2 separate regions of the Homo sapiens genome follow, and region 1 is linked to region 2. Evidence: fine-mapped expression QTL. A gene starts in region 2. The other region holds a variant in brackets. All regions are shown on one strand. Distances are between the middles of the regions. Region 1 overlaps LINC01857 (long intergenic non-protein coding RNA 1857). Region 2 holds the start of FZD5 (frizzled class receptor 5).

Region 1 (2,943 bases), 91 kb before region 2:
GGAATTCCAGACCAGCCCGGTCAACATGGTGAAACCCTGTCTTTATTAAAAATACAAAAATTAGCTGGGTGTGGTGGCAGGTGCCTGTAGTCCCAGCTACTTGGGAGGCTGAGGCAGGAGAATCGCTTGAACCTGGCAGGCGGAGGTTGCAGTGAGCTGAGATCGCATCACTGCACTCCAGCCTGAGCGACAGAGCAAGACGCCATCTCAAAATAAATAAATAAATAAATAAAAATAGAATTACACATAAAATAGTGGTATCCAGCTTACGGGACGAAAGAGTAATAGAAGCTGGATCCCTCCAGAAACCTAAAAAAAATGAAGAAAAAAAGGCCGGGCGTGGTGGCTCACACCTGTAATCCCAGCACTTTAGGAGGCCAAGGCGGGTGGATCACAAGGTCTAGAGATCGAGACCATCCTGGCCAATATGGTGAAACCCCGTCTCTACTAAAAATACAAAAATTAGCCAGGTGTGGTGGCATGTGCCTGTAATCTCAGCTATTCAGGAGGCTGAGGCAGGAGAATCACTTGAACCCAGGAGGCGGAGGCTGCAGTAAGCCAGGATTATGCCACTGCACTCCAGCCTGGCAACAGAGCGAGACTCCTTCTCAAAAAAAAAAAAGAACAAAAAATAGATTGGTGAATATACTATATCATACTATGCTACACTACACTATACTATATTGTGCTGTATTATAACATACCATATTATAATATACTAGTGATGCTAAAACTAAAGGAGCCCACAGATTTTGAAGAATATCATCATGAGGTAGAGTGAGAGAAGGTATGAGGGGTCTTCTCACTTGTTACTTCTGTCCCTCTCTCCACAGGCAGTGGTGGCTGAGAGGAAGAACTGACACCTTTGTGCTATCAGAGCACTTTGCAGAGGAGCTGTTAGTGGCCCTGTAGGAGTCTGCTGGCCATACATCTGGGTGTCAAATCAAGAGAGCATGAGAAGTTGGACAGGAAAGGTCCAAGGCAAAATGGTTACTAAAGGCCATCCCTGATCCTGACCCTAAAAGAAGAAAAGGCCCTTTGCTCTTGGCATGCTTTTGCAGGAGTGTCTCAGTCTGTTTGGGCTGCTATAACATTGACTGGGTGATCTGCCTGCCTGGCCTCCCAAAGTGCTGGGGTTACAGGTGTGAGCCGCTGCACCAGGCCTTGAGGTCAGGAGTTCGAGACCAGCCTGGCCAACATGGTGAAACCTGTCTTTACTAAAAATACAGAAATTAGCCAGGCATGGAGGCGCATGCCTGTAATCCCAGCTACTGGGGAGGCTGAGGCAGGAGAATCGCTTGAACCCAGAAGGTGGAGGTTGCGGTGAGCCCAGATAGTGCCATTGCACTCTAGCCTGGCCAACAAGAGTGAAACTCTGTCTCAAAAAATAAATAAA[C/T]AAACAAACAAACAACAACGATGTGTTTCTTCATGGTTCTGGAGGCTGGGAAGTCTTTGATCAAGACGCCAGCAGATGTGGTGTCTATGGAGAGCCTGTGTTCTGGTTAGTGAGCAATACCTTCTCTCCGTGTTCTCACGTGGTAGAAGGGGAGAGGCAGCCCTCTGGGGCCTCTTTCATGAGGGCACTAATTCCATTCATGAGGGCTCCCCTCTCATGACCTAATCACTTCCCAATGGGCCCACCTGCTAATACCATCCATCGCCTTGAGGATTAGGTTTTTAATATATGAATTCTGGGGGACAAAAACATTTTGATCATAGCCAGAAGGTAAATCGGTGTTGCTCTAAACTAAGGAAACAGAGAGGACTCTGGGAAATGCTCCTCCCTCCCTGGGGCTCCTAAGCTTCTCAAATATTTTCATCATTGCCATATATCTCTCCTCAACCACGCTACAGCCCTGGATTAGAACATAGCATAGGCCACGACTTTCAATTTGCTTATAATCTGGTGTAGAGATTCATTCATTCACTTAATATACATGCAGCACCTACAATGTGCCATATATATATGCCAGAAAGGCAGAATATTTGCCAAACAAAAGGTGCAACTACTACATGCAATGAGATTTGGGAAGCTGTCTCTGAGGGCTGGATAGCCTGGGAAGGCTTTATCAAAAACTCGTGATTTGAAGTGGGACTTGTAAAATGGGTGGGATTTAGACTGGAGGAGAAGGAGGAGGTAATGCTGGAAATACAGAGGTGTGAGTAGGAGACATGAGGGAATTCAAACTGGAAAGGGAGGTTCCAGGCCAAGCGTGGTGGCTCACGCCTGTAATCCCAGCACTTTGGGAGGCCGAGGCGGGCAGATCACTTGAGGTCAGGAGTTCAAGACCAGCCTCGCCAACATGGTGAAACACTGTCTCTACTAAAAATACAAAAATTAGCCGGGCATGGTTGCAGGCACCTGTAATCCCAGCTACTCGGGAGGCTGAGGCAGGAGAATCACTTGAACTGGGGAGGTGGAGGTTGCAGTGAGCCAAGATCATGCCACTGCACTCCAGCCTGGGTGACAGAGCAAGATTCTGCCTCAAACAAACAAACAACAAACAACAACAACAAAAATTTATACTTTAAAAGAGTGAATGCTGCTATGTAAATTCTATCTCGATTTTTTTAAAAAAATTAGACTATTTATTTATGATCCCTGAATGGAATTAAACTAAATGATAAAAATTTTCTTAAAATCAAGGTAGGAGTCACTTTTTAACCAAAGATTATATTCTTTTTTTTTCTCTTTTTTAACTTTTGTTTTAGGTTCAGGGGCTCATTATGCGGTTTTGTTATATAGGTAAACTCATGTCACGAGAATTTGGTGTACGAATATTTCATTACCCAGGTACTAAGTGTAGTACCTGATAGGTATTTTTAAAATATGGAACACTTCATGAATTTGCATGTCATCCTTATGCAGGGGACATGCTAATCTTCTCTGCATCATTCCAATTTTAGTATATGTGCTGCTGAAACTAGCACCAAAAGTTATAT
Region 2 (2,500 bases):
ATTGGATCTCCACCAGCGGCCAGAACTGGTGCACCTCCAGGCCCGCCTCGTCCTGCGTGTCGTGGTTGAACTGGTTGGGCATGTGCGTCAGGTTGTAGCCGATGCCGCGGCACATGGGCACCGTGATTTCCTGGCACACCGGGGCCTTGGACGCGGCGGCCGCCCGGCCCACCAGCTGCGCTAGGAGCAGCAGCAACAGCGAGGGCGGCGCGGATGGGTCAGGCCGAGCCATCGCCCCCTCCCTCCCCTCGCCTCCAGCAGCCCGCGAGGGACGCACACAGGCAGAGGAATCCGGGCCGGGGCTTCTCCCTCCGGCGTCTCGTGTGTGGCGCCGGGGCTGGCAACCTGTTGGTTGCTTTTTCCTTTAAAGAAAACCGTCCAAAGATAAACTGCTTCGGGAAGGCGCTGCCTCCGCTGGCAGCGCTCCGCTCCTCGCCGGATAGGGCTGGGGAGAGACGGTTAGGGCTCGGATTCCAGGGAAAGGACTCTTTAAAAAAGAAGGGGGAGAAGAAAGATTGCAACCACTCCCTGTTGGAGAGGCGTCAACAGTTCGGTCCCCGCGAGCTGTCTCCAAATCTCTTAAGTTAACCCCTTTCCTTTCCTCCCCGCTCCGCCTCCTGTAACCAAACTACCGACTCCCCCACCCTCTCTTTCCAAGCTGGGCCCTTCAGGCAGTGCCCGGAGACCAGAACCCTCAGCTTCCCGGAAAAGGGCACAGGAAACGGGAGAAGAACAGGGAGAAAGGGAAGGTTCTCACCTCCACGGATCCCGCCGAGAAGAGCAGACAGTCCCCAGCCAGCCTGGGTCCTCCGTCCCTGGGTCACTCCGCTGAGAAGCGCGACTCAGAGCCGGGCTGGCGCCCGGAAAGTTTAGCGACAGGCTGGGTACCCGTGGCAGCGGCACATGGCAGCAGGTGGGGGCGACTCAGAGTGGGGGGCGCCCCCAGAACAGGGGCGGCGCAGGCCGGTCACTCGCCCTCTCCTCCTCGGGAGCCCCCCGCATGATCCAGACGGAGCCGGGCAGGGGCAGGCCGTGCGTTCTCCCCGGGGCCGGGAGCCGGACGGAGGGCGAGCGCGCCTGGCAGCACCTGGGCGGGAGGAAGGCGGGAGGCGGGGGCCGTGGGACCCCGCCGCCTCACAGCACCGCGAGCAGCCGGCGCTGGCCAGGCCGGGACTGCATGGTGAGCGCCGGCCGCCGCGTCCCGCCCGCCGCTCGCCTCCTCCCCTGCAGGGGGCTCCGCGCTCCAGTGGACTCCTGGGGGCGGTGGCGACGCTCTCGGGACGTGCCCTGCTCGGCTCCTCCCCCGCGCTCTCGCACCCTTTCGCCCACCTCTGGCGAGCACGGAACCGCGCGCGGCGGCGACCACAGCGGACTCACGGCCGCAGGCTGGCTGCCCTCTCCCGCCCCGCCCGGGTCACCTGCTTCTAATGCCCGCCGGGAAGCCCCGCCCCGGCTCCGCCCCCTCAGGCCCGGGCGCGGTTGGTGGGCCGCCTCGCCAAGCTCTCCGCGCGTCCCCGCCCACTGCCCCGCGGGCTCGGCCTTTCCCCCGGCGCCCTCTGGCCCCGCCAGGAGCGGGCAGCCAAGGAGCGCTGACCAATCGCGGGCCTGGAGGAGATGGGGGCGGGGCGAATGCTAATCATGCCGCTCTGGGCACCCGGGCGGGAAGCCCTTGCCAGAAGTCCCTCCGGAGTTCTCTGCCCGCGCCCTGGGTGCAGGACTCGCTCCTGTAACTTCCTGGCTTATGCACCTTTGCTCCCAGGGCCCCTGCCCTTTCTGCCTGCAGCTAAGCGTCCTTACAGAGTTCAGTGCTTCTTTGAAAGAACTGCTCAAGGAATCACTCTTAGGCGTGGCTGTCTCCCTTCCGAGCTGTCTTGGAACTGTGTGAAAGAAGAGAGGATACTTACTGAGCCCTTTACTGTGTGCCCAACAAAGTGTTAATCGGTTACATCCTTTTTTTTTTTTTTTTTTTTTGAGACGAGTTGTTCTGTCTCCCAGGCTGGAGTGCAGTGGCGCGATCTCGGCTCACTGCAACCTCTGTCTCCCGGGTTCAAGCGATTATCCTGCCTCAGCCTCCTGCGTAGCTGGGATTACTGGCGCCCGCCACCACGCCCAGCTAATTTTTGTATTTTTGGTAGAGACGGGCTTTCACCATGTAAGGCTGTTCTCGAACTCCTGACACCGTGATCTGCCCGCCTCGGCCTCCCAAAATGCTGGGATTACAGGTGTGAGCCACCGCGCCCGGCCCGTTTACATCTTAAGACAAGATCTCACTCCTTACAACAATTCTGAGGCAGGTACTTCCTACAGGTGAAGAAACCGAGACTGAGACTTGGCCAAGGCAACCGAGCTAATCATAGTTCCCCCAAGAAAGGGCGACCTCGGCAAGCAAGTTCACCTCCGTATTCCGATCACCTGGCACATAGTAGCCGCCCAAATGGCAACCCTGGGATTCGAACCCAGGTAGTTGGTCAGCGGCACTCACCATCGTAGCCGCCCCTCC

What was found. PIP is the estimated chance that this variant, and not a neighbour inherited with it, causes the effect.
Region 1: its variant is the best candidate, but not a certain one, in a credible set for the expression of FZD5 in nasal epithelium (TOPMed, PIP 0.57).

The regions. Positions count from the first base shown.
Region 1 is chr2:207,677,709-207,680,651 of GRCh38, forward strand. LINC01857 (long intergenic non-protein coding RNA 1857) reads left to right here. Exons shown (of 4, transcript NR_135566.1): 4 at 834-1,414. It also overlaps the pseudogene RNU6-664P. Among named protein-coding and RNA genes, the nearest start is that of LINC01857, 17 kb to the left of the region's middle. The variant C/T (reference allele first, on the strand shown) is at 1,397.
Region 2 is chr2:207,768,508-207,771,007 of GRCh38, forward strand. FZD5 (frizzled class receptor 5) reads right to left here and starts at 1,399. Exons shown (of 2, transcript NM_003468.4): 1 at 758-1,399; 2 at 1-487. The coding sequence starts at 232. RefSeq lists silencers at 150-209, 620-679, 1,020-1,699 and enhancers at 2,250-2,299, 2,464-2,500.